Homo sapiens: one gene and its partners. The protein of the gene in region 3 purifies or fractionates together with the protein of the main gene of each other region. This does not show direct contact. Each region holds a gene or a part of one and is shown on either strand. Other genes may lie near its edges.

Evidence for each region.
Region 1: the proteins of RNF26 (region 3) and CUEDC2 purify together in Homo sapiens (affinity purification with mass spectrometry; 3 studies listed by BioGRID and IntAct, with this or other methods). This does not show direct contact.
Region 2: the proteins of RNF26 (region 3) and ZMPSTE24 purify together in Homo sapiens (affinity purification with mass spectrometry; 3 studies listed by BioGRID and IntAct, with this or other methods). This does not show direct contact.
Region 4: the proteins of RNF26 (region 3) and ZNF143 purify together in Homo sapiens (affinity purification with mass spectrometry; 3 studies listed by BioGRID and IntAct, with this or other methods). This does not show direct contact.

The regions. Positions count from the first base shown.
Region 1 is NC_000010.11:102,429,568-102,436,783, reverse strand, and holds the start of CUEDC2 (CUE domain-containing protein 2), read left to right. Parts: upstream 1-4,209; 5' UTR 4,210-4,258; intron 4,259-7,216.
Region 2 is NC_000001.11:40,289,226-40,294,695, reverse strand, and holds the end of ZMPSTE24 (CAAX prenyl protease 1 homolog), read right to left. Parts: intron 3,843-5,470; coding exon 3,699-3,842; intron 2,252-3,698; coding exon 2,027-2,251; 3' UTR 516-2,026; downstream 1-515. UniProt on the Homo sapiens protein: Transmembrane metalloprotease whose catalytic activity is critical for processing lamin A/LMNA on the inner nuclear membrane and clearing clogged translocons on the endoplasmic reticulum.
Region 3 is NC_000011.10:119,329,530-119,337,544, reverse strand, and holds RNF26 (E3 ubiquitin-protein ligase RNF26), read right to left. Parts: upstream 3,019-8,015; 5' UTR 2,423-3,018; coding exon 1,121-2,422; 3' UTR 236-1,120; downstream 1-235. UniProt on the Homo sapiens protein: E3 ubiquitin-protein ligase that plays a key role in endosome organization by retaining vesicles in the perinuclear cloud.
Region 4 is NC_000011.10:9,456,594-9,464,017, reverse strand, and holds the start of ZNF143 (zinc finger protein 143), read right to left. Parts: upstream 3,007-7,424; 5' UTR 2,984-3,006; coding exon of another isoform or gene 2,942-2,983; exon of another isoform or gene 1,978-2,941; intron 740-1,977; exon of another isoform or gene 148-739; intron 1-147. UniProt on the Homo sapiens protein: Transcriptional activator. Activates the gene for selenocysteine tRNA (tRNAsec). Binds to the SPH motif of small nuclear RNA (snRNA) gene promoters. Participates in efficient U6 RNA polymerase III transcription via its interaction with CHD8.

The DNA of each region.
Region 1 (7,216 bases), on a different chromosome or scaffold from region 3:
TACTATAGAAGACTTTCTGGCAGGGTAAAGAGATTTGGGAGAGCCCCTGACGTCTTTGAGCATAAGAGTAGCCCGAGTCAAAGTTATTTAAAGGTTTGGCCAGTGGGCAAGATGTGGGCCTGCAGAAGCACCTGGCTGGGAAGTTGGGAGCCCAAACCATCAGCTGCCCCACGGCCTTGGCATTGATGTTGTAGCACTGCCGGGCACCAGAACTGAGTCCACAGGGCATTGCTAGAGCTCACAGCCTATGGAATTCAGTTCTCAGTGCCAGGTGGCCAAAGTTCTTTCAGCCTGGACGCTGCTCTTGCATGCTTTCTTCTGTGAATCGTCTCCCGTTCCCAGGATGAGTAAGTTGAGGCCCAGGATGGGTCACATAAGGAACTTGTGATACCAAGAGAACTCCTATTCCAGGGAGGGTCTGAGCTTGGAGCTGAAAATGGGGGCCCACAGCTAAGGAAATGGACAGGAGTTCCATAAATTCCAACAGGAATTGGAGTAGGTTAAGAGGGGAGGGGGCTCAGGGCCATGGCAGGGATCCATCTGTCGCTTCCTGCCCAGATGTGTTCCTGGTGGGGCCTGATGTGGGGCTGGAGGGGTGAGGGGCTGGGGAAAGAGCCAGAACACGCACACTGAGAAGGGCATCTCTATGCAAACCAAGGGGCTTTCTGAGCTAAAGGGAGTCCCCAAGATATGGATCCCCAAGATAGGAGCCCAGCCCAGGAGTCCTAGCTCCCCAGAAATCTCCCCAAAACCCTGAATAAAGATTTGAAGTACCTGGGATAGTGGAGTGGAGGAGAAAGAGTTCCCTGAAGCACACTTTCATTTTCTGGAGAGTTCAGCCGAGGGCTGGGTGCTCCCCTCACTCACATGGCAAAGCTGCAGCCTATCCCAGAGAGGGAAAGCCAAGCCTGCGCCTCAGGGGCACCCCATCCCGACCCCTGCTTGAATCCAGAGAGAGGGACAGCCACTTACCCACGAAACCTCCTCTCTATGGCTCCTGGGGCTGGATCTGCAACGATGTTCTCAGCCGGTGCTCCTTAAATAAGGCCCCCACCCCCGCCCCAGCCGCCTCCCGCCCCCGCCCCATGCTGGCTCTTCTGAGAAAGGAGGAAGGTGTGGGAGGGCCAGGAACCCTGCCCAGAGAGCCCTTTCTAACCTCAAGCCAGAGCGGGACCCCGCCCCCGCCATTCTTTGAAGCCTCCCCTTCCTCACCTTGGTCTCTAACTGAGTTCTTCCCACCCCTTGAGACCAGCCCGCTGGGCTCTCTCTCTACTCTGCCTGAAAAATCTGCCCTTTATGCCAAATTCAAGTCCAGTTTCTCATTTTGAAGCAGGATGATGGGGAATGGAGGTGCTAGGGGAAGCCTCAGCGTAGGTTTCTAGCTTTTCCCACCAGCTAAGGCGATCCAGGCACCCAAACACCAGCTGCAAAATTCACTGGAAGGAATGGCGGTGAAAAGGCATCCCTCTGCCTCCTTTAGCTCTGTGCCGCTTCAAGCAGTACCAAAGGGCAGTGGGGAGTCTGTTCCCATTTTGGGGAGAGAGAGACTGAGACCTGAGGGGAAAGAAAATCAGGGGCTGAAGTTCCAGCCAGCTTCAGAATCCCTCAGGGCAGGGATCCCGGGAGCCCCTACCTTACAGTATGTGTGTGTCCTTGTGTCTGTGGGGTTCCCTCTCCTCAGCCCACCTTCTGTCCTCGACCCCCCAGAACTTGACTCCTGCTGCACAGAGCTGGGACTCCCCAGAGTTTGAGTTGGGAAAGGAGGGACTCCCCCTAAGAAGTCTTTTCCATCCTCCTCCCTTGAAAGCTCAGGAAGTTCTTTCTGATACCAAGTCACATGCAGCTGCCATCCAGCAAACAGGGGATAGGGGAGAGGGGAAGGCACACAGTCAGAAATGGCTTGCAGGGGTCTTGGGCCAGAACTCAGGGCAGCTCTACTGAGGAAACTTGAAAGTTCCGGGAATGGAGGGTGGTAGGGAGAGAAGAGTCATCAGTATTGTGCAATGGACAGGGGGAAGCAGGAAAGGGGACGGGGGAGGAAAGGGATGGCTGGTCTCTGGAGGACAGGCAAAGGCCTGGGGCTGTGGGCTGCCCATCACCCCCTTCCTAGGGGCCTGCCCGGCCAGAGTTCAAAGTCGCTGTCACCCCACCCCTCATTAACCCTAGTATCACCAGGCTGGAGTGGCAGTGTTTTTATGGGCAAAGCGACGCGAATGTGCCCCTTCCTTCCCTGCTACCTCCCCCAAGCAGCCAACATCTTGCTGTCTCTGAGGCCAGAAGAGGAAGGAGGCTGTTGTGAGGACCAGAGGTGGAAGAGAAAGCAATAAGCAGTCATCCCGTTTTCTCCATAGTTTCTTCTTCTTCCTTCTCCTTCTTTTCTTCTTCTTTTTTTTTTTTTTTTTTTTTTTTGAGACAGGGTCTTGCTTTGTCACTCAGGCTGGAGTGCAGTAGCACAATCACGGCTTACTGCAGCCTTGACCTCTGGGGCTCAAATGATCCTCCCACCTCAGTCTCTGGAGTAGCTGGGACTACTGGCGTGTGTCACCATGCCCAGATAATTTTTTATTTTTTAAATTTTTTGTAGAGACGAGGTTTTGCCATGTTGCCCAGGCTGGTCTCAAATTCCTGGGCTCAAGCGATCCTCCCACCTCAGCCTTGCAAAGTGCTAGAATTACAGGTGTGAGCCACTGCAGCATAGTATCTTGGCACTGCCTTAGTCCCTAGGAGAGAGGAAAGATGGGACTTCTCTCTTGGACTGTGAGCTCCCTGAGGGCAGGGACAGCTTCCGGGTCCCCAGCACCCCACGAAGGAACTAGCACTAAAAAGGGCTCATCCCTGCTGATGGGGGATGGGAAATTTTATCCTTGAAGGGGACTCTTCCCCTTGTGACCCATTTCAGGGTTCCCAAGAGGGGAGGGCTGTGGGGCTTCCCCACAGGGCAGCACCGGGAATCTGTGGCAGCAGGAACAAAAAGAGGAAGTTGAAGTCTTGTTGGGCCCTGGAGTTCAGCTCTCCTGTCCTAGACAAGCAGCCCTGCCAACATGGGGGATGAAGGCCCCGGGGGGTAGGCATGGTCTACAGGCTGTCCATGACAGGGCTCAGGTGGATCCTCATCCTGGCACCTGCTACCACTCCACCTCTCCCAGACCACGTCCAAAATCCCAGGCTCCACCCTCCGGAGACACAGACCTGTAGCTCACCCCAATCTAGGGGAGACATTGCTGTTAAGGGAATGCAAAAGGTACAGACAGGGTGGGGAAGTCAGTACCTAAGAGACCAGCCTGGGCCACGTGGCAAAAACCCTGTCTCTACAAAAAAAAAAAAAAAAAAAAAAATTAGCTCGGCGTGGTGGCACGCGCCTGTGGTTCCAGCTACTCCAGAGGCTGAGATGGGAGGATCACTTGAACCCAGGAGGTCGGGGCTGCAGTGAGCCATGTTCGCACTCGTGAACCTGCACTCCAGCCTGGGGCTGTAACAGCAAGAAAAGAAGAAAAAGAAAGAGAAGGAAGGAAGGGAGGGAGGGAAAGAAAGGAAAATAAAGAAAGAAGAAAAGAAAAGAGGCCAGGCGCGGTGGCTCATGCCTGTAATCCCAGCACTTTGGGAGGCCGAGGCAGGCGAATCACGAGGTCAGGAGTTTGAGACCAGCCTGGCCAACATGGTGAAACCCCGTTTCTACTAAAAATACAATAAATTATCTGGGCGTGGTGGCGCGCGCCTGTAATCCCAGCTACTCGGGAGGCTGAGGCAGGAGAATCTCTTGAACCCGGGAGGCGGAGGTTGCAGTGAGCCGAGATCGCGCCACTGCACTCCAGCCCGGGAGACAGTGCGAGGCTCCCTCCCAAAAAAAAAAAAGAAGAAGAAAAGGAAAAAAAAGTGAGAGAGAGAGAGAGAGAGAGACGAGAAAAAGAGAGAGAGAAAGAAAGAGAAAGGTTTCGGGTCTCTGACGGATGAGAAGGAACAAGACGGGGATGCAGTCCTACCCACTTCGACTCCACCCCCTCTCAAGACCTTCACGCCTAACGCCTCCCTACGCGCAACAAAACTGGCCGCCAAGGGAGCCCGTCCATAGCCCTGGGACGTTAGAGAATTAGAGCAGGAGCTCCGCCCTGTTGTGGGCAACTTGCCCTTCTCAAACATGGCCGCCACGGCGCCTCTGGAAGGGAACCGCTCTGGGCCCCGCCTTTGATCTCGTTGGTGGGGCTGGGGGATGAGAGCTGCACCGCGCGGGACAAGTCGCCGGCGGCGCCCGACGGAGCAGGTGATTTCCCCTCCTGCCCCCGGCCCAGGGCTAGGAGAGTCGCGGAGAGCGCTGACCCAGGGTACCCGTCCGATGTGTTCCCCCACGGTACCCCCCCCGGGGCCCGTCGGACCCCCATCTCTGATTCTCGCCGTGGCCTGTATCAAGGCACATCCAGTTTGCTCAGGCCTGCCTCGTCATGTGTCCTCCAAGGCCACAGCCGCATCCCTGTGCCTTCGGGCCCACTATTCTGGACGCTTACGGGTGTCCCGCTAGCGGGTTTAGGGAGCTGCTGCTTCAGGGGTCGTCCATCATCGCGGTCCCACTTCCTGTGCTCGCCCTCCCTGTTTGTGCTCCCGCCTGACTTTGGATGCAGGGATCCCTTGTTCCCCTCAATGCCCTTGGTGCCTCTAAGGTCTGACTTGGGTATCAGAGGACAATGATATCCTCTGGGGCCTGCGTTATGGGTCCAGGGCCTCAGGAACCGGGCTTCACAGGGGCTGGGAGAAGCAGTGAAGACCTTCCATGCTAGACCCCTTGCTGCCTCCCTGAGAAGTTCGCTAGGACTCCTTTCACACTAGCTCCCAGGATTCCTCCTCCCACATGGCCTGCTCTCCCTCCACTTTAAGCACCTCCCCACCCCAAGGGAGCAGCATAGTACTTCTTACCCCACTCTCACTTAAATTTGTCCACAGTGTCTCTATCTAGCATCTGGAGGGTCCAGGCCTGTGCTGCCCTTGGGAAGCTCCCAGGCTAGCTGGGAGCAGTGAAGGTGGGGCAGTTAGGGTTGGCTGCAGAAAGGGAGTCCTGCAGAATGAGATTTGGAGAGGCAGAGGGACAGATGCTCTGGGCTGGGAGAGTGGTGTGAGCAAAGATTCTGAAATAGACAATATAGCCAGCCAGGCAGGAGAGGAGATTCAGAATATAGGATGGGGCCACACAATTTGCATCGTGAGAGGTGATGTAGTGTGGTGGTTAACAGTGAGGGTTCTGGATCCAGACAGCCTGGGTGTAAATCTGCCATTAACTTGCCTTGTGACCTTGGGCAAGTTACTTAACCTCATAGTGCCTTCATTTCCTTTCAGGTAAAATGTGGATAATACGGCCGGGCGCGGTGGTTCATGCCTGTAATCCCAGCACTTTGGGAGACCGAGGCGGGTGGATTGCCTGAGGTCAGGAGTTCGAGACCAGTCTGGCCAACATGGTGAAACCCCGTCTCTACTAAAAAATACAAAATAAATTTGCCAGGCATGGTGGCATGCGACTGTAATCCCAGCTACTCAGGAGGCTGAGGCAGGGGAATTGCTTGAACCAGGGAGGTGGAGGTTGCAGTGAGCTGAGATCGCACCACTGCACTCCAGCCTGGATGGCAGAGCGAGACTCCGTCTCAAAAATACATAAATAAATAAAATAAATAAAATAAAATGGGGAGAATAACAGTATCTACATTTTAGAGTTATTGTAAGGATTAGGTAAGTTAATACATGTAAAAGTGCTTAGGACAATGCCTCGTAAGCAGAGGCAATAAATGCTAATATTACCATCATCGGAGGCATTTAGGCAGGACTCATGACAGGATGACAGTCACATTTGGTAGACACCATCAACCAATGATCTCTAATTTGCGGCCCCCAAGAAGCAATGGGGTTCTGTGGGCTACATCTGGAATTTGAAATGTCTCATGGAAATCATGTTCTTACCCTGGAGAAGGGTGGCTGCTTAGGTGCTACTTAGGAAACCAGTCTGGCAGACCAGATCTTCCCCAACTCAGGGGCTATGCGGGGAGAAGTATTAGGAGCCCCTGAGCAGGAAGGATGTACTTAGGAAGGCTACCGGGGATGGGGAAGGGTAAAAGAGCTTAGAAGCCTGGGTGAAGTTTGGGTAGACCAAAAACAGGAGGAGGGAGGGAGGATGTTCCCTTGGAATACAAACTAGAGAAAAGCTTAGGGGAGCAAGTCTTTTTATTTGGGGACAGTGAAGAGTTTCCTAAAAATTCCCTGGCCCCCAGGCCTTGGCTAAAAACCCAGAAGCATGAGACACATCCCTGAGAAGCTTCTTCCCTAGAAACTGGGCTCTCAGGCCGGGCACGGTGGCTCACGCCTATAATCCCAGCACTTTGGGAGGCCTAGGCGGGCAGATCACCTGAGGTCGGGAGTTCGAGACCAGCCTGACCAACATGGAGAAACCCTGTCTCTACTAAAAATACAAAATTAGCCGAGCATGGTGGCACATGCTTGTAATCCCAGCTACTCAGGAGGGCTGAGGCAGGAGAATCGCTTGAACCCAGGAGGTGGAGGTTGCGGTGAGCCAAGATCGCGCCATTGCACTCTAGCCTGGGCAACAAGAGTGAAACTCTGTCTCAAAAGTAAAATAAATAAATAAATAAATAAATAAATAAAATTAAAAAAAAAAAAAGAAAACCTGGGCTTTCAGCCAAGTTTCAGTCACCACCACACAGGTGGCTCATGCCTGTAATCCCAGCACTTTGGGAGGCCAAGGTGGGCAGATCACCTGAGGTCAGGAGTTCGAGACCAGCCTGGCCAACATGGTGAAACCCCGTCTCTACCAAAAATACAAAAAATTAGCTGGGCGTTGTGGCAGGCGCCTGTAATCCCAGCTACTCAGGAGGCTGAGGCAGGAGAATTGCTTGACCCTGTCAGGTTCACACCATTGCACTCCAGCCTGGGCAACAAGAGCGAAACTCCGTCTCAAAAAAAAAAAAAAAGAAAGAAACTGGGCTTTCATGCAGCAGCCATGGGCCTTTGTCCCGGCAGAGGCTACCATGCAACTGACAGCCCAGGATTCGAGGGTGATGTAACCCAGGGTCGAGGTAGGTCCCTGGAGGCGGTTCTACCCTGAGGGAGCTGCATGATGGGATCTAGTATGCCTGGGCTGAGCCATTCTGCTCTTCCTCAGGGCCCATGAGGGCTCTGGCGCAGGTGGTATGAATTCCCCTGGTAGGCTGGGGCTTCTCAGTCC
Region 2 (5,470 bases), on a different chromosome or scaffold from region 3:
TTTCTTAGGGTGCAGAGTGCCATCTATTCCTTCGTTGGTGGGCCTATCTACTCTTCCCTTGATTGGTCAATTTCTTAGGAACCTACCAGTATCCTTTTGGCCATCCCTATGCCTCTGCCATCCATAAAGTGTGGGTGACTAAGTCAGTCACATATTTAAAAGCTAATTACTGCCACCATATGTAAGGAAAACCAAAGAGGCAGCTGGAGCAGACCAGGCAGGCCCAACAATTTGAGGTTATAAAAATAGAGAAGGAATGATTCCAAATGAAGCTTCCAAGGAAATATCTGCAAGAACTGGTGATACTCTGGAGCAAAGCAGGAGCAAGACACTGAAGAGACTCTGTGTAAAGCACAGTGGTGGCACTGACACCACTCATCATTAGGGCTATTTCTTCATTCCACTCTTCATTGCTAGCACCCAGTTCCTCTCAGGTAATAAACATATGTTCAGGTAACAAATGATACACAAATTAAAAAAATGATACACAAATATCAAACTAAAGACAAAGTACATACATTTGCGTTGGCAATGTTTAATGTTTCACTTTTGCAGAACTGAAATTTGTATTCAAAGGCACAGAAGGAAGGAAAGGCAGTTATCAGAGCATGAAGTCACAGATAAAGGATGCTGAATAAAAGCATAGGACTGCTCCTCTTTAGCCTTAGGAAAATAAATAATGCAGTATTAAACTAGATTTTTATTTTTATTATATTTCCATGTGAAGACATCACCCAAATGTCAGCGGAGCAAAAGACTTTATGGTCAGATACCAAAGGCGTACAGTTGATCCCACTTTGGAATAAATGCCCAGAAGGTAATAAGCATTATCAGTGAGTGAGAGCTCTAGGCACAAAATAAGTTCTCATTCAGAAAGTGGACAGAGATATGAAGCAGTGAAACATATAGCTTTAAAAACTGGAAATCATTCATGACATTTGTTTTCAAAGTAAACATTATCTGCATTTCAAGAACTGTAATTTTCAAAAGTAGAATCAGGCCTGATTAAGTAATATTTATGACTTACAGATAAAATTACAAAAATAAAAATGAAAACTCTTCTGCCCTTGAAAGAGATAGAAAACTATATTTTTTTCCCTGTAATGTCACAGAGATTCATCAGTATTTCATCCTTATGTCGCTTAAAAAATGTTATTTTTAATTCGTCTTTCCTGTTCTGCCACTTTTAACATAGCAAAACGTGTTTAATATGGCCATCTCTGCTGAGTGAAAGGATGTATTATTTACTGCATGAATGAGAAGAAGCTACAATTTACCTCCAATGGGATCATATCTACCACGTGGGAAAAAAAGATAAAGACACGGATTTTCCAAAAAACAAAAGAAACAAACAAACAAAAAAACCCCACAAAACTCAATGATTTAAAATATCCTATACATAATTTCTAACTTCAAAGCACTATGAGAAACTCTTGATCACTGTGTAGCAAGAAAGGGAAGAAAGAAATTAAAAATTTGGTAGAATAGGAGAGCATTTTTCTAACTACTTTCATTTAAATAACATTGGCCTTACCAACTATTACCTTTCTTATTTAAAACACTGATTCACCAGGTGAAATCATAACAGCATGAAAGTAAGACCAGATTTCAAGTTAGGTGTGAGCACAATGATTCAGGACCACTGTTTCCACCTCACAGAAAGGATTCCTGTGGTGATGCTCCCTCTTTCAAACATATGCCCTCAAACACCTCACATGCAGATTCCATATAAGTATACAAATAAAACGAGTTCTGTATTTTTCCAAATAATTTTACAACTTGATGGTAAATTAGATGTCAAAGATAAAACTATGCCTTTAAAAACATTAAGCTTCAAAATTCATTCAGTGTTTTAAGAAATGAATTATTAAAATCATTTTTAAAATGACATATTAAATGTATTTAAATCTGGGCTTTTCTGTACTTAATTTTTCTTCTAAAAAAAAGTTTAAAAACATCAAGAGCTGGAACATGCTGCCAGGACAGAAATAATCAGAAATGTCTTCAGTCACAGATCCTGGACATCTCAGTGTTGCTTCATAGTTTTCAAAGCTTGAAGTCTCTCTAGCAGTGGAGGATGAGAATAATGCCACATTGAGAACAACCAGTCAGAAACAGGGAATCCCAAGTTATCTTTGTTAAGTTTGATTAAAGCAGAATATAAGTCTTTAGCCTTCCCAAGTTTCTTGGCAAATGCATCAGCTTGAAACTCAAATCTGCGGCTTAGGACTGTTAGGCAAAAAGAAAGAACCTGAAAAAGAAAATGAAAGGGTTTTAGCCACTGCCCACCTCTTTGTTGTTACTAAAGGTTCCATGAGCTGAGACTGTAGAGAAGTTTGGCTTGGGATAAGAGGAATGGCAGGACAAAAGAAAGATCACTAATATTTAGGGGACCTAGGGTGAGGAAATTATAAATTGAGCCTTATTCTCCCCCAAGCAAACAGGCCAGAAACACATATAAAAGTTAAACATCCCTAACCAAAAACTTGAAATCTGAAATGTTCCAAAATCTGAAACTTTTGAGTGCTGACATGAGACTCAAAAGTCATGCTCAGGCCGGGTGTGGTGCCTCACACCTGTAATCCCAGCACTTTTGGGAAGCTGAGGCAGGTGGATCACCTGAGGTCAGGAGTTCGAGACCAACCTGGCCAACATGGTGAAACCCTGTCTCTAGTAAAAATACAAAAATTAGCTGGGCGTGGTGATGGGTGCCTGTAGTCCCAGCTATTCAGGAGGCTGAGGCAGGAGAATTGCTTGAACCCGGGAGGCGGAGGTTGCAGTGAGCCAAGATGACACCCCTGCACTCCAGCCTGGGAGACAGAGCGAGACTCCATCTTAAAAAAAAAAAAAAAAAAAGAGTTTTAAGATAATACATCTCAGTTCTCTGCCAAATTTATTTTTGTTTATGTGGACAATGCTATATGAATATGATCTATGCCCCTCCATTTTTCTTTCCTGGTGTCCCCACCATACATAATAGAAAAATATAATTCATTTAGCTCATCTTAACTCTACAATCTATCCCAAGAAAGAATTCTTCTGAATGGAGATACCTCAAGATCTTCAATATTATTTCTTAGCTTAATTTGGAAGCCTTACCAAACATCATGAAATGATGCCATTGTCAGGTTTGTTATATAGTCTCACATTAACCTATGTATTATCACTCACACGGAATACCCCTAATGAGCTAACACAGAGCAATGTTCTTAAGTTTCATTTACCACAAAATACCCGATTTTGATTTTGTGGGTTTGGGTGGATCCCTCAGGCTATATGGAGGCAGGTGGTCATGGAGCAGAGGAACAGTCACTAAGCCTCCCTTACTGAGCTGTACCAATTAGTGTTTGCTTTGTCCCCTCATACACATAAGATTTTTACCCAAGCACTGGTGAATATGTGGCCTAGGACACAACATTCCAATAGTTAATCTCCATCTACCGAGTCCTTTTAGGTGTTCACCACTGAAGTCTAGTTTTCTACTTATACTTTCCTAAGAGTATGCAAACGTTTATTTATTTGGGCTTGAATTTTTCTGCTACTTTGTCATACTGACCAGTGAATCAGGGGACTAAAAGACTTTGTTTCATCTATTTGTTAAAACTGTACTGTTCTATTTCCTTTTTCACTATCCTGAAAGCTCTAGATTTGAAGCAGGCAAGAGCATATGTGTGATAATTTTAAAGATCATACATTACCTCATTGTAAGGTGAAAAAATAAACTGGAAGATGATCAATAGTCCAATAAGAGTGGGTTGGCTATCATAAAAACCAAATGCAGCAAAAAGCTCCTTTCGACCAATTAATACAGCAAATAAAAAAAAACACAGGAAAGAATTCATCTAGAAAGAAGGACATGAAATTTCTAAGTTATTACCAAGCTGATTTCACTATGGGATCAGTAGCATCCATAAAGTATAAGAAATCACAGTGTGGCCGGGCGCGGTGGCTCACGCCTGTAATCCCAGCACTTTGGGAGGCCAAGGCGGGTGGATCACGAGGTCAGGAGATTGAGACCATCCTGGCTAACATGGTGAAACCCCGTCTCTACTAAAAATGCAGAAAAAATTAGCCGGACGTGGTGGCGGATGCCTGTAGTCCCAGCTACTCGGGAGGCTGAGGCAGGAGAATGGCGTGAACCCGGGAGGCGGAGCTTGCAGTGAGCTGAAATGGCGCCACTGCACTCCAGCCTGGGCAACAGAGTGAGACTCCATCTCAAAAAAAAAAAAAAAAAAAAAAAAAAAATTCATAGTGTGATTTTAAGAAAGGTATTAGTGTGATCACAGAACAAATTATTTAAGTAGCTTTTTTTGAGACAGATCTCACTCTGTCGCCCAGGGTGGAGCTCAGTGGCACGATCTCGGCTCACTGCAAGCTCCGCCTCCCATGTTCACGCCATTCCCCTGCCTCAGCCTCCCGAGTAGCTGGGACTACAGGCGCCCCCCACCATGCCCGGCTAATTTTTTGTATTTTTAGAAGAGACGGGGTTTCACTGTGTTAGCCAGGATGGTCTCAATCTCCTGACCTCAGATGATCCACCCACCTGGGCCTCCCAAAGTGCTGGGATTACAGGCATGAACCATACTGCCCCGCCAGTAGTTTTTAGTTTCACTTTTATTTCAAAAGTAAAATAAAATGTTCCCAAATGTATAAACTGTATCATTTTCTATAAGGGCAAGCTTAAGTTGAGGCTCCTATCATTGAGGGTTTGAAGTGGTCAATAGCAATGGGATATTTTCTCTCTGTAAAAGGGTGAAGGGCTAGAATGGATTCTGGCCTTGTTTTATAACACTGTAATCAGATACAACGCCTCCCACCTGACTTTGAAGCGGAGGCTCCAAAGAAACAGGCTTCCCTTGAATCCTCTCTAGGCCCACTGGAGCTGTACCAGATAGTTAGAAAGGTCAGGGGGAAAAGTAGATCCATCTTGATCAATAAATGAGAGGAGAAAAAAATAAAAAATCTATACCAAAATACAACCTCTTGGAGTAAGGTTGGAGAACACACAACATTCTTTTTCTGTGCAAATTAGGATCTTGGAGGCCACATGTACCTTATTTAAGTGTGTTGCTTCAAACCATTTGACCCAAACGAGATGACCCAAGAAGCTGTCAGCTTAGAATGGGGCTTAGAGCATAAGAAGGCTCACCAGCTGCCCCAGGACAAGCAGCTTCGACACTCATCCTTATAACTCAGTGGATCCAATATGACAAGCTCCAACAGAAAACTCAGTGAAGTCTCCTACACTTATAATCTATGCATCCACTTTTGTCAAGTAACCATTGTCCTTTTGAAAAATAACTTTTGGTTTGCTACTGGGCCCTACTACAGACTGAATTCCTGGCCATGGGATACTGTGATCCTGCAAACTGAACTATCCCTTCTGAACTGGGTGCTATGTTAATCTGTTAATCTGCCTAGCCAGGAAACTGCTATGCGCAGAAGCACTTCATCATCAAGGACAAGTGGT
Region 3 (8,015 bases):
TGTTGCGAGAGGGGACAAATCAGAAGGGATGAGAGCTCACAGAGCCATGCCTGGCATGCACTCTCCCCATGACATAGTCTTCCCAGCCTATCTTAGCTCCTTCCCTGTCCCCCCTCTAAAGCCCAGGTACCCCCACAGCCCACACTTCTGACTCTGGCGGGGCTGAAGGACCCTGATGCAAGGTCTGTTGCCTTGACCAACTGCTCCCTTGCAGGGATGCACACAGAGACTGTCAGAGCTGTCAAGAGAACTTTATTCATTGGAAACTGGGCCAGAGACCCCTCACGAAGCTGCAAGCCCCTGGGCCCTGGGCCCTTCTGTATTTGGACCCTAGTGAAATGTGCACAGTCTGCCCTCTCCATGCCAGGGAGAGACAGAGAGGAATGCCATTTTTCTGTGTGATGTGGGAGTGACAGGGGAAAGAGCAGAAATCCGGTTATCCCTCCTGAGACTCCCAGTGAGCTGGGGTGCCACAGGGCACGTGGCCCCAAAGTCAGGTGCAGATGCATCCCCCATCCCAGGGGTAAACTCCTGAGACTGGCTTTTGGATCAGGTTGGGAGGGAGCCTCATCAGACGATCACAGGCAGAGGTGGCTCTGAGGGCACCCGAGAGATACTAACCCCAACGCCTACCAGGGCACAGGGGCTCTGGCTGAACACAAAGGTTTAAGATCATCCGAAGGCCCCTGAGTTGCCAAAACACCCAAATGACACTGATGTGTTGTGGCCGCAAAAGCTGGGGAGGAAATGTGAAGGAGGCAGGAAAAGGACCTATAGATCTCCAACAGAAAAACCAGAAGCAGACAGGGGTAACCCCAGAGGCATCTGGGTGGGCCCTGGGCAGGCTGGAGGAGAGCCCACAGCAAATAGTCTCAGGGCCCTTGCATAGTGACATACTCACCACCCTCAGCATCGAAGGGACCCACTGGGTAAAGAGAAGCCATGTTATCCTGCCCCCACCCAGATCATAGTCTTCCAACTCAATGTCCTGGATGTATGGCAGGATGGCCACAGGGGTAGGAGGGGATTCAGACCAGGACCCGGAGATGAGGTGTTAATGCTGTCCTAGCGTGAGTGCCTGCGTGGAGCATGGAGGGGTGGGCAGGCAGGGAAGGAGGCTTCAGAGGTAGACATTGAGGGTCTGCAGGATGCCCCGGCGGCAGAGCGGGCAATTGCGGTGGTAGACGGGGTGGCGCATCAGGATTTCAGTGCAGGCCTGGCACAGGCACAGATGCCGGCAGGGCAGGAGCAACACTGTCTTGCTCTGGTCCTGGCAGATGACACACTTCTTCCGCTCCTCTTGCTCCTTCAGCAATTTCCAAGGGTCTTGCCCACCTGGAGGCTCCTCCTCATTGAGCCTCTCTCGGCCCCTGACAGGTGTCACTCTGATGGTCCTGGCCTCCTCCTCTTCTGCCTCTGATCTGCGCCCCGCTTCAGGAAGAGTGTCCTGTCTCCGGGTCCTAACTGAGAATACCCTCATAGGGTCACCCTGGGGAGCTCCAGGTGCCCCTCCCCGGTTTGGCCAACTCGCCAGCTGCAGACTGCGGCTCCAGACTCGGCGCCAGGCCTCTGAGCCCAGTGCTAGGCGAGAGAGCCGCATGACATCCTCTCGAAGACGGTGGTAGGATGGCCGGGCATGGAGCTGGCTGAGTGCCTGGGTAGCCAGCCTCAGGGTGAAGTCCGGATGCAACACAGTCACCGTCACTGCCAGCACACAAGCTAGCAACACCAAGCCAGTGAGATTGACAAGCACAAAGCTGGCCAGGAGGCGGGCAGCTGAGGCCAGCAGCTCCAGGGCTAGTTGGCAGGGTGTCCAAAGGAGGATGGCCATGGCCACAGCACTGCTGGAAATGTGGGCTAGGAAGGCAGCCACTACGTCCGTCATCCTCCACAGAGGCCCGGTCACTGCATCCCACAGGGCCAGCACCAGGGAAAAGAGGTTCTGAGTGCCGATGAGGCAGATGTTGACCAGGCTGTTGATCACATAAGCCACCAGGCTCATGGCAATGGCACAGATGTCACAGGCCTGGCGCAGCAAAGCATGGCCACTGGAGACCACATTGAGGACGCCCCGGTGCAGTATCTCCCTGCTCCGCAGTGCCCCATGAGAGGCCAGGTGCCCCAGGAGCTTTAGGCTCTCTAGGCCAGAGCAGCAGCTATACAGCAGAGTACACAAGGCCTGCAAGCCCCCACATGTGAACCGGACCACGGCTTCGATCAAGGCCAGCAATGAAAGCAAGACTCCGCGGCCCAAGTGCAGAAGACTAGTCAGTACCGTGTGCGGCAGGTTGTAGACGAAGGCCAGGAGCCAGGCCAGGGAAGCCAGGAGGGAGGACACCAGCAGGAAGTTGAGGTCCAACACCAAGGTCAGCACGTCCAGCACCAGGCCCAACCCATTCACTACCAGGTACACTGCCTCCATGATAGGGCTATGGAAGTTAGTCCAAAACAAAGTCTGGCTCCTCGGTTGGGGGGTTGTCAAGGTTGTCAATATTTTAGGGGGTCTGGGATTAATTTGGAAGGAAAATGAGCAGTCTCCAACCCAGGGGGTACCAAGAATCTGAGGAAGAAGTGGGTAAGACGGAAGTGGAGTCTTGGTAGAGGGAAAGGTGGCCAGGTGCCAGTCCAAGAGTCCAGGTTTTGAAGATGGGCTGTTTGGGAGGGAAGAGGCCAAACATCTCTAAAGCGAAGGCGAGCCCAGGCCGTAGGAGCGACCTCAGCTTTGGATGCCTGGTGTGGCGAACCACGGCCGGGCAACGGGTCAGACCGGGAGGAGACGAGGAACGGATGGAATGGGATCGGATCGGATCGGGTCGCGTCGGGTCGGGCCGGGGCCGGGTGGGGTCGATGTAAGCTGGGCGCAGGCTCTCAGTCCAGCTACGCAGGTGCCCCTGTCCCCGCCCGGCCCCCGTCTTCCCGCTAGCGGCGCTTTGCACCCAAAAGGGGAGTGGGAGAGGCAGCCAGCTTCAGCAAACCCCAAGCGCAGCCCCTACTCCGCTGGGCGCCGCCATCTTGTGTGCAAAGGGGTGGAGCCAGAGGCGTGACGAGGAGGGAGGGACGACAAACTCCAGCCAATCGGTGAAGGCCAACCACAAAAACGTCGATCACTCATTGGTCCGTTTGAATGGCGCCCGAACGTATTTACTTTCCAAAGGGAAGGAGAGGCGACAGATTAAATCCCCTCCCCCTTTAGGCGGGGATTGGTTCGTTGGCGGGCAGCGTCGAAATACGCTCTCCTAGCCCCACCCTCTAAAAGAGCAGGGTCTTGGACTCCCCTCAATTTGGGAGCTGTTCTTTCTCCCGGCCTCTGAACGCGAGGTTTTTTTTTTGGCTTGGGTCGGAGGTCACTGCCTCTGGGCTGGGCTTTGGAATAGCACCGCCTTCGCAGCCTGCCCAGATCCGTCTCCTCATTCTCTTCTATTTATTCATCTATTCTATCATTTATTGAACTCCTACAGTGCATTGAGGATACAAAAAAATTTTAAGACAGTGCCTGCTGTTCACAAGGGAAAGCAGATTATTACAGGGGATTCCCAAACTGCTATTCCAAACTTTCCTCACCAGGTTTTTCAACATCTCGGAAGATTACTTCATTGTCATTGAGAAAAAGGGGCTACAGATTTAGAAACCGCTCAGCTTCCTACCCTGGGCCTTCCTACCCTAGAGTGCAGTGGCGCGATCTCGGCTCACTGCAACCTCTGCCTCCCGGGTTCAAGCGATTCTCCTGCCTCAGCCTCCCGGGTAGTACAGGTGCCCACCACCTCACCCGGCTAATTTTTGTATTTTTAGTAGAGACGAGGTTTCACCATGTTGGCCAGGCTGGCCTCGAACTCCTGAACCTCGTGATCCACCCGCCTCGGCCTCCCAAAGTGCTGAGATTACAGGCGTGAGCCACCAAGCCCGGCCCTGCCCTTTTCTTTAATACTCAAACAATAGTCAAAATATATTTGAAACCCCATCCCAAATATATTGGGAATCCTGGCGTTTTCTACTAACTCCAAGGATGCTTAGCAGACTCCTAGTGGACTTATCTTTCCCCTGGTCACCTTTGCTGAATTTCCTACTTGAGTTGAATTCTCCATCTCCACTCCTGGGCTCCTGAAAGTGTCCGTCCTCCTTCAGTCTGCCCTGAACACTGCCTCAGAGTCCTTCATTCTCCAAAGCATCACTGATAAGAAGCTGAGGTGTGCAGCAAACCTTTACTGAGGCCTTGGGATCGTGGTAGGGGTACGCTATAGTGCAGAGGAAGGACTGCAGTCGCTGAAACTCCTCTGGCTTCTTCCTACCCTTTCTCTCTCCCTGCTCTCAGGCCCTGGCCAGGTTATGGTTTGTTGTGTTGTGATGTGTTGCTGATGTTTTTATTTTCCTACTCGCATCCTCCCGCCAGTGTCAAATCTTGGAGAATGTGCCCACCTCCCTTTCAAGACAGTTGATCCCATCGCCCGTACCATCTCCTCTTAAGGGATCTTATTTGTCCAGTGAACACTATGTTGTTATTAATCAATCTTCCTCCAGCACTTGACACCACTTCCTCCACCCTTGGCCTCAGAATCATTACCCTTTCCTATATTCTTTCTGTTTCCATCATAGCCTCCTCTCCTGTATACACGATGATTTCTGAATTTGTGTCTTCAGCCTGAACCTGTCCTGCAAACTTCAGGCTCCAGCTGCTTCCTGGACATGAACGGTTCATGGGTATCCCACTGGTGCTTCCTACACAATATGTCCAAAGTCAAACTTGGCAAACGTGCTGTGCCTGCACTGCGTGCAATTAACTGGCCAGTTTTCCACACCAAGAAGCATGTAAAGTCCTTCTCAGAGTTGGCAGGATCCTCTAAGAGAGAATTTCCATTCGTTTAGGACCAAGACCTCCCCTTTGAGTGATTTGAGACTCACTAATCCAAAGCCCTCTTTAATGAGCCACAACCCTTGACTCCCAGGAAACCTAGCAGGTAATCCTGCTTTGGGCAGGGACAAAGACTCCAACTGGCTTTGGGGAGGCAGTTCAAATTGTTTGACAATGTTAGTCCCAGGGATTGAGAAGAAAATAAGCCAGATATTGAGAAAGCTGAACACCTAGAAGCCCTATCCTTGCAGTATTTTCTAATGGAAGATGTAGTGTAAAGCCCTCTGGAGGCCTGCTCTGGTGGCAGCTGGTTTCTGCTGTTGTGCTAACTTCAGGGGTTTTTTTGTTTAGTTTTGTTTTGCTCAGCGTAAGATTCTAGCTGGGACAATAGAAGGGATTTTTAGAGACTATGAAGGACTGAGGATTAAGAGATTGGAAAAACCAGAAAAGAATGTCTAATTCAGGGGTTTTGTTTTGTGCTATTGTGTATATTACGGCCCTCCCCATCGTCTCCTCATCAAGCATTCAGTAAAATCTATATTATTGCCATGTTTTAGGTTGGTTTTTTTTATTTTGTTTTTTAATTATGCAAATCATTTACAGGGTCCCAAAGTCAAAACTTTATAAAAAGATACAGTCACAGAAGGTTTGCTTTCATCCTTGTACCCTCCACCCTGTTCCCTCCCAGTGCCACCCAAGCTTGAGAGGACCCCAAGTATTACAAACATAGACAACAAATGTCTCCATAAAGGAGCACCTGGGTCCTCTATCAGTCAGGATCCAGTGCTCGTTACTGGTACGGAAAAGCCTATAGCCCCAAACGTCAGCTCTGCAAACAACACGGTTCAGGCCCGAAGAAGCTCTTCAGCTCTTCTGCACTTGTTTGAGACAGTCTCGCTCTGTCACCCAGGCGGGAGTGCAGTGGCACGAGCTCAGCTTACTGCAACCTCCACCTCCCAGGCTCAAGTGCTTCTTGTGCCTCAGTCTCCCCCAGTAGCTGGGACTACAGGCGTGCACCACCACACCCAGCTAACTTTTGTATTTTTAGTAGAGACGGGGTTTCACCATGTTGGCCAGGCTGGTCTTGAACTCCTGGCCTCAAGTGATCTGCCTGCCTCGGCCTCCCAAAGTGTTGGGATTACAGGCGTGAGCCACCGTGCTGACTCTGTCCTACACATCTTACAAAAAAAAAAGAAAGAAAGAAAAAGAAGAAAAGAAAAGGAAAGAAAGAAGAAAAGAAATTAACGTGGTTTGTGCAATGTGGCTGAGGAACATTTTTCAATATTAATTCCTATTTATCTTTAAATTTGCATATATGTAAATATAGAGAAAACACGCATGTGTATTTAACTAGCTATATTCTAGTTTTGACTTAAGGAAAAACTAGTTTTCCCTAGTTTTGCACTAAGGAAAAAACCTACTTGCAATTTTAGTCTTTGATTTAAAAGACTGTCAAGGGCAAGTCGATGATAACAGTAATGACATGGTTAGTAAAGATAATAAAGATGAACAAGCCAGGATTTTGGCCAAAAATCTAGAAGCATTTTTTTGGTGACATGTCCCCTGTATGGCACATAGTTGAACTTGTTATTAGAAGACACAGCCTAATTGTGCTGATAATAATGGCATTTTTGGAAAAATAAAAAGATTATATGCAATATTCTGGATGTGCCCAAAGATGAAATATCTTGGAAAAAACTGTATCACAACTGACCTTACAACTGCTCTTGGATACATGATGGGAATGCTGGCTAAATGCTGTTAAAACAAGTCGGTTTAATTTAGACAAGAAACTAGAAGGGCTGGGCACCATGGCTCACACCTGAAATTCCAGCACTTGGGGAGGCCAAGGTGGGCGGATCGCTTGAGCCCAGGAGTGCAATACCAACCTAGGCAACATGGCGAAACCCTGTCTCTACTAAAAATACAAAATATTAGCTGGGCATGGTGGCATGTGCCTATAGTCTCAGCTACTCGAGAAGCTGAGGTGGGAGAATCACCTGAATTTGGGAAGTCGAGGCTGCAGTGAGCTGTGATTGCACCACTTTACTCCAGCCTGGGCAACAGGGTTGAGATTCTGGAAAGAAAGAGAGAAAAAGAGAAAGAGAGAGAGAGAGAGGAAGGAAGGAGAGAAAGAAAAGGGAGAGAGAGAGAAAAAAAAAGAAAGAAGGAAGGAAGGAGAGAAAGAAAGAAAGGCAAAGAAAGAAAGAAGAAAGAAGGAAGGAAGAGACAAAGAAAGAGAGAGAGGAGGGGGAAGAAGGGAAAGAAGGAAGAAAGGAAGGAAAGGGAGGGAAGGAAGGAAGGAAGGGGAAACTAGAAGACTGAGCAGCGTTAAGAAGATTCACAAAGAGCAAATTATGGTCTCAAATGGAAAATCAAATTACCCTTGCATGTGCACTACCCACAGATATTTGAGATGGTTGTTTAATATGAATAATATTGATAAAAGTGTAACCAAAATACTGCTCATTTGGATATTTTTTTAAACAAGTGATGAGCCACTATTGATACTTTATTATGAACTGAAGTCCACAGTTTACATTAGGGTTCACTCTTGGTGTTGTACATTCTATGGGTTTTGACAAATGTTTAATGACATTTATCCATCATACAGTGTTATAGAGAATAGTTTCATTGCCCTAAAAATTCTCCGTGCTGTGCCTATTCATCCCTCCTTCCCCCCAGACTCCTGGCAACCACTGATCTTTTTACTGTTTCCATAGTTTTACCTGTTGTAGAACGTCATATAGTTGAAATCGTACAGTATGTAGCCTTTTCAGATTGGCTTCTTTCTCTTAGCAATATGGATTTAAGTTTCCTCCATATCTTTTCATAGCCCATTTCTTTTTAGCACTAAACAATATTCCATTGTTTGGATGTACTAGCTAATTTATCCATTCATCAATTGAATGACATCTTGGTTGCTTCCAGGTTTGGGAATGATGAATAAGGTCTGCTATAAACATTCATGTGCATTCAGGTGGACATAAGTCTTCAACTCATTTGGGTAAATACCAAGGAACACAATTGCTGGATCATAAATATAGCATGAGTATTTTTAGTTTTGCAAGAAATCACCAAACTGTCTTCTAAAGTGGCTGTACCGTCTTGCATTCCCACCAGCAATGAGTGATAATTCCTGCTGCTGCACATCTTCCTCAGCATTTTG
Region 4 (7,424 bases), about 110 Mb from region 3:
ACAGTGAGAAACATGTCCAAGATATATGGTAAGTGGGAAAAAGCAAGTTGCAGAAAAGTAGATACCATATGATTGCATTCATTTATTTAAAAATGTATATAGTTATCTGTATATGCTTGTATGAACATTTAAAAATTCAGTGCTTACCTTCCAGAAATGGAACTATGCTATGAGGGTGGAGTGGTTTTTTATTTTAAAAATAAAACCATGTAGTAGAGGCACAGTTCAATGCAGCCATGCCACGTTTCTGTGAAGAACACAACCAGTCCTTACTTCACAGCAACATTCCAACACACAGCAAAGGACTATGGACATTTTGCAAACCATGTATCTGATAAGGGACTTCTATCTAGAACATATAAAGTACTCTCACAACCAAATCATAATAAGACGAATAATCCAACTTTAAAATGGGTAAAGAATTCAAACAGACATTTCTCCAATGATTATAAATGATCGTTAGGCACAGAAAAAATGCTCAACATTATTAACCATCAGAGACAGGCAAACCAAACCTACAAGAGACACCATTTCATCCACACTAGAAAAACTATAATCAAAAAGACTGATGATAACAAGTGTTGGTAAGGATATGGAGAAACTGGAACCTTTACACATTGCTGGTAGGAATGTAAACGTGGTGCAGCCACACTGAAAAAGTTTTAGAGTACCTCAAAAGGTTGAACATAGTTACTATATGACTCAGCAATTCTATTCCTAGGTATTCTACTCCCAAGAGAAATGAAAACCTATGTCCACACAAAAACTTTCGTACAAATGTTCATAGCATTATGTGTAATAGCCAAAGGGTGGAAACAACCCAAATGTCCATCAACAGATGAATGGATAAGTAAAATGTACTATGTTCATACAATGAAATATCATTTGGCAATAAAAATAAAGTATTGACACATGTTATAACATAAATGACCCTGGACAAGGCTACATACTTTGTGATTCCATTTATGTGAAATATCTAGAATAGCAAACATGCAAACTAGTAGTGGGGTGGAGGGGACAACTGAGAGGAAATGGGGAGTAATTGCTAACGGGTATAGTTTCTTTTGGGGGTGATATGTTGCTAAATTGATTGTAGTGATGGCTGCGCAACTCTGAATATATTAAAATTCAACTTTTTTTTTGAGACGGAGTTTCGCTCTTGTTGCCCAGACTGGAGTGCAATGGTGCAATCTCGGCTCACTGCAACCTCCGCCTCCTGGGTTCAAGCGATTCTCCTGCCTCAGCTTCCAGAGTAACTGGGATTACAGGCGCCTGCCACCACACCCGGCTAATTTTTGTATTTTTCGCAGAGACGGGGGTTTCACCACGTTGACCAGACTGGTCTCGAACTCCTGACCTCAGGTGATCCGCTGGCCTCGGCCTCCCAAAGTGCTGAGATTACAGGTGTGAGCCACCACACCCAGGCTAAAATTCAACTAATTATCACTTTTTTTTTTTTCGAGACCGGTCTCTGTCACCCAGACGGGAGTACAGTGGCACAATCACGGCTCACTGCAGCCTGGAACTCCTGGGCTCAAGTGATCCTCTCACCTCTGCCTCCAAGTACCTGGGACTACAGGCACACGCTGATTTCACTTAAAAAAAATTTTTTTTGTAGAAACATGGGAGGGCCGTCTCCCTATGCTGCCCAGGCCTAATTACACATTTTAAATGGGTGAACTGTAAGGTATGTGAATTACATCACTAAAGCTATTTTAAAAAATAAAGGCGGGCATCTGTAAAGCAAAAAAAAAAAAGGCACTCAAGTATCTGTAGACAGCTGACTGCTCATAGAATTTCCAAATAGTGGACACTGACAATTAAAAAAAAAAAATTTCCAAACAGTCAAAATACGCCAGGACAAAATTAGCTATGCATCTTATGGGTGTTTTTGAGTGATCTCCTTATCACGTTATTTTCTTACTAAACGTAAACTTGATCTACATACTCAGCAAGAAAAAACATTAAATACTGCACCGTTTTTTGTCAACTACAGGAAAACACAAGTATCTTCTGGTAAGATTCAGGACAAAGCCGACCACAATCTCGAACCTACAATTTCTCCCCACATTCTCACTTGATTATATCAGCTGATTTAGACACTTCCAAAGCAAAGGCTGACGCTGATTTTAAACAAATAATGGGCTGGCAATGGTATTCTTCTTTCCTCTTTTTAACTTCGTTATTATGTGGAAAAAACAAATGTCCAAAGCAAAAGGGGAAGGAATAAAAACTAGTTCGCGTTCCACAATAATACGTTTCAAAGAGACTTATAAGAATTTGTTCACTCTTTTGGCCAAAACTGGAGAAAAGGGAGGATAAAATTGTAAATTTCTAATATCCGATGTTAGACCTCAGTAACCTTTTTTTTTTTTTAATAGAAGAAAGGGTGAGGGGGAAACAATCTGCCCACGATACGCATGGGAAGCAAGCGCTAGGTGAGACCGGCAGGTCCTGGGAGGGCCTGGGCCAGCCCTGTCCCCGGCGCCCCCGCTGCGGCCTGGTGTGGCCCGTGGGCCCGGCGTCCCAGGCGGCGGAACTCTGCCTCGGCGGCGCCTGGGGACTCGCTCTGCGCGGAGGTCAGGCCGAGAAACGCGGCCAAGGCTCCCGAGGGCTCCACCCTCCCCTCTTTCACTCCCTCCCCTTGGCGGTCCCCTGAGGGAAACAGGCGGGGCGCATCGCTCAGAGACAAGCTGGGGGGAGTTGAGTCCTCAACGAAAAAAGCTCCGCCGCCTAGAGTGGCGGCCGCGGGTTATTAATAAACTCCGCTTCTGCCCAGACGCCGCTACCGCGGCCGGCCCATAAAATCGGCAAGGCCTGCGGCGGAGGCTGAGCAGCGGGAGCCGGAGCCCGGGCCCAAGCGGGCCCGCGCCGCCGCGCTGAGGGCGGCGGCCAGGCGGAGAATAATGCACACTGGGTAAAAACACATTTATATACGAACCTCCGAGAAAATTTTCCAACAATTCCTTCGTCCGACCACCATGCACCAGGACAGGAAACAGCCGTCCGGCCCCCAGGCCCCGCAACCCGCATAGTGTGTCTGAGGCCCGCCCCCAGCTTCCATTGGGCTGTCATTACATCACTCACAGGACGCTTCCGGTTTTCCATTGGCCCACGTTTGGTCGACGCGAAAGAAAACCGCCCTAGCCGCGCCCACTCAACTGACGTCAGCCAAGCCTGACTTTACAGCCCGCCCCTGAGTGGCTCGCGCAAAGTGCAGAATCAAAGCTCCTGTGTCTGACTGGTTGACATAACCGCTTATCCCAGACGGACCCCGCCTCACTGACTAGCGAGTCATACCGATTCTGGGGCCCCAGCGGGAGGCGCCATTTTGTAGCGAGGGAGGGAGGCTGGTCCTTGTGATTACCCGGGAGGGAGCCGGGGTGACGAGCGCCATTTTCCCCACAGGGGCGAGGAGGCGGCTTTGGTTCTCCCGGTGGGCTTGCCGGAGTGCGTTCTGCAGACCAGAAGGGCTTTGTCTGGCGATTGCTGAATGCTCAATAGCAGCCTGCTGGGAGGGAAGTCGAAGGGAGAAATAGGACAGAAAGAGAGACCTGACCTCTCCCTGGAGGCTCTCAGTGTCGGCCGAGGCCCTTGGTCTTGCTCTAGGGCTCTGCATTCCCGAGAGCTGCTGTATGCCGGGGATTGGCTTCCAAGCCTGCCTGAGCTTCTCCAGTCTCCCGGGCATCGCCATGCGGTGGGAGGGTGAGCCTTCCTCTCCTGCTGAAATTCCGGCGGCTTGGCAACCGGCCGGGGGGTCTTGGATTCCTCGGGGAGACACCACTGATGCTTTGTGGTTTCACGTAATTTGGATTTAAAAGTTGAAGGCGTCAGAAATGGTTGTCGCTACGGTCTTTTGTATGTTCTTGTGTTGCGAACTAATAAAGGAAAGTCAAAAGGGTGGGAGAAGCATTCAGTCTGGTTCCCTAAAGTTACTAAGAATGGATACAAATTAGTTGTGGCCGTTGCGGTTAATGCTTCTTGTAGCTCTTAACCCAGCCCTTTCTAAACCTTTGGATATACTTACTAGTCAGTTCCGAAGGTACTCAGTACAAATTTGCGTTGGCGCACCAGGCCGACTAAAGATGAGGTGGGTGTATTAGACTCAAAATTTCTTAAGTCGGCCAGGGGGTAGAATTGAGCTACCAAGAGAATGAGAGACTACCCTGTTGTAACAGATTTGGATCGCGCTTAGAAAAACAGGGAGAAAGCTGGATGATGTTCAACTTAATGTCTTGCATTTCAGACGATTATCGAATGGACGGGGATAAATAAAAACGATGTTACAGATAGCCCTCTAAGTGTGGATAGTAAATATTTTGATTTACAATTAAGCCTACCTTGAGGTGCAGGCCCTAACCAACGGATAGTTGAGTAATAGGGGCCTAGACGCCAATGGAAAGAAAATGGGACTTTAAGCTTTGTTTGAACATATATTCTGTTAATAAAGAAGTTTAAATCAGTTCGGATTACTGTTTTTTGTTTGTTTGTTTGTTTTTTGAGACGGAGTCTCGCCCTGTAGCCCAGACTGCAATGCAGTGGCACGATCTCAGCTCACTGCAACCTCCGCCTCCCAGGTTCAAGCGATTTCTCCTGCCTCAACCTCCTGAGTAGCTGGGACTACAGGCGCCCACCATCACGCCCGGCTAATTTTTCTGTTTTTAGTAGAGACGGGGTTTCACCATGTTGGCCAGGCTGGTCTGAAACTCCTGACCGCGTAATCCGCCCACCTCAGCCTACCAAAGTACTGGGATTACAGGCGTGAGCCACCGCGCCCGGCCCGGATTACTTTTTAAGCCCTTAAAATAAAAGTGTCACATATAAAAAATGGATTAGGTGGCCGGGCGCGGAGGCTCACGCCTGTAATCCCAGCACTTTGGGAGGCCAAGGCGGGCAGATCATGAGGTCAGGAGATCGAGACCATCCTGGCTAACGCGGTGAAACCCCGTCTCTACTAAAAATACAAAAAATTTAGCAGGCGTGGTGGCGGGCGCCTGTAGTCCCAGCTACTCGGGAGAATGAGGCAGGAAAATGGCGTGAACCCGGGAGGCGGAGCTTGCAGTGAGCTGAGATTGCGCCACTGCACTCCAGGCTGGGCAACAGAGCAAGATTCCGTCTCAAAAAAAAAAAAAAAAAAAAAAAAAAAAGGATTAGGTTACTTTTAACTGGAGGATTTTGCTCAGTTAAAATCAGTCTCCTACCCAATGGATACATTCTCTGTTACAAAGAAGTAGCCCAGCTGAAAAACAAATGGTTTTAATTTATAATTTCTGTTCCCTCCACATGTATCTGTGTTTTGTAATTGGAGGTGTTTTTTAACCCATCAGAATATTTTTATGCAGTTCCACTAAGTCCCATGCCTGTAGGCTACTCATTAAAACACTATAATACAGAATCTCAAGAATTTTTAAATCGCCCTCTTATTGTAGATAACAATTACAGGACATCTTTGTATCCCCAGAAGCTACTGAGTTGTTCTAAAAATTGAATGGCGATGATGGTGGCGGTGGATAGGATGCTATAATTGTAACTGGATTCAGAGAGAAACCTAATTCTGATTTGTCACAGGTAATGGAACGTTGTGTTAACAGTATTTACCAGTGACTATAGAACAGAGTTCAAATGTACATATATTCAGAGCCATTCATAAGCTTAAAATGTTATCCCATTCATCTCCCTTCCCTTATATCGTGTTATATCCGGTCAAATTAATGGCTTGAAAATGTTTCCCTGTCAATCAGTACTAGTCCAGGCTCTTAAATGCAGAAATTAAATAATTTCCCCAACTTCCTAAACAAGAGGTAACTTATTTGTAGCCCCCTTCAAAAACTGTTAAGATAATATTTTCTAAAACACTTCTTTCAGTAACTTAAAACTTACTGGAGAATTGGTTGGTTTTGGCATATTTATACCATGCTATAAGCATTAAAGTAGTATATATGTATACTATATATATATAGAAATTATATATGATATATATGTATACTATATATATAGAAATTATATATGATATATATAGAAAAAAGATAAACGATGAGTTAAGCTTAAAAGCAATTATTTCAGGCCGGGCGCGGTGGCTCACACCTGCAATCCTAGCACTTTGGGAAGCCGAGGCAGGCGGATCACGAGGTCAGGAGTTCGAGCCATGGTGAAACCCCGTCTCTACTAAAAATACAAAAATTAGCCCGGCGTGGTGGTGGGCGCCTGTAATCCCAGCTACTCAGCAGGCTGAGGCAGGAGAATGGCTTGAACCCCGGAGGCGGAGGTTGCAGTGAGCCAGGGTCACACCACTCCACTCCAGCCTGGGTGACAGAGTGAGAATCCATCTAAAAAAAAAAAAAGGCCGGGTGCGGTGGTTCACACCTGTAATCCCAGCACTTTGGGAGGCCGAGGAGGGTGGACCACCTGAAGTCAGGAGTTCGAGACCAACCAGGCCAACATGGCGAAATCGCATCTCTACTAAAAGTACAAAAATTAGGCTGGGCACGGTGGCTCACACTTGTAATCCCACCACTTTGGGAGGACGAGGCGGGCGGATCACAAGGTCAGGAGATCAAGACTATCCTGGCTAACACGGTGAAAACCCGTCTCTACTAAAAATACAAAAAATTGGCCGGGCACAGTGGCTCACGCCTGTAATCCCAGCACTTTGGGAGGCGGAAGTGGGCAGATCGCCTGAGGTCGGGAGTTTGAGACCAGCCTAGCCAGCATGGTGAAACGCCGTCTCTACTAAAAATGCAAAAATTAGCCGGGCATGGTGGCAGGTGCCTGTAATCCCAGCTACTTGGGAAGCTGAGGCAGGAGAATCGCTTGAACCCGGGAGGCGGAGGTTGCAGTGAGCCGAGATCGTGCCGTTGCACTCCAGCCTGGGCAACAGAGCAAGACTTTGTCCCAAAAAAGCAAACAAAAAGATAAATAAATAATAAAAATACAAAAAATTATCTGGGCGTGGTGGCATGCGCCTACAGTCCCAGCTACTCAGGAGGCTGAGGCAGGAGAATCCCTTGAACCTGGAAGGCAGAGGTTGCAGTGAGCCGAGATCGCACCACTGCACTCCCGCCTGGGTGACAGAGCGAGCCTCCATCTCAAAAAAGCAAAAAACAAAAATTAGCCGGCCATAGTGGTGGGTGCCTGTAATCCCAACTGCTCGGGAGGCTGAGTCAGGATAATAGCTTGATCCTGCGGGGCGGAGGTTGCCATGAGCCAAAATCGTGCCACTTCACTCCAGGTTGGGCGCAAGAGCGAGACTCTGTCTCAAAAAAAAAAAAAAAGTTTCATGCCGGGCGCCGTGGCCCACGCCTGTAATCCCAGCACTTTGGGAGGCAGAGGCGGGCGGATCACGAGGTCAAGAGATCCAGACCATCCTGGCTAACGCGGTGAAACCCCGTCTTTACTAAAAATTAAAAAAAAAAGTTAGCCGGGCG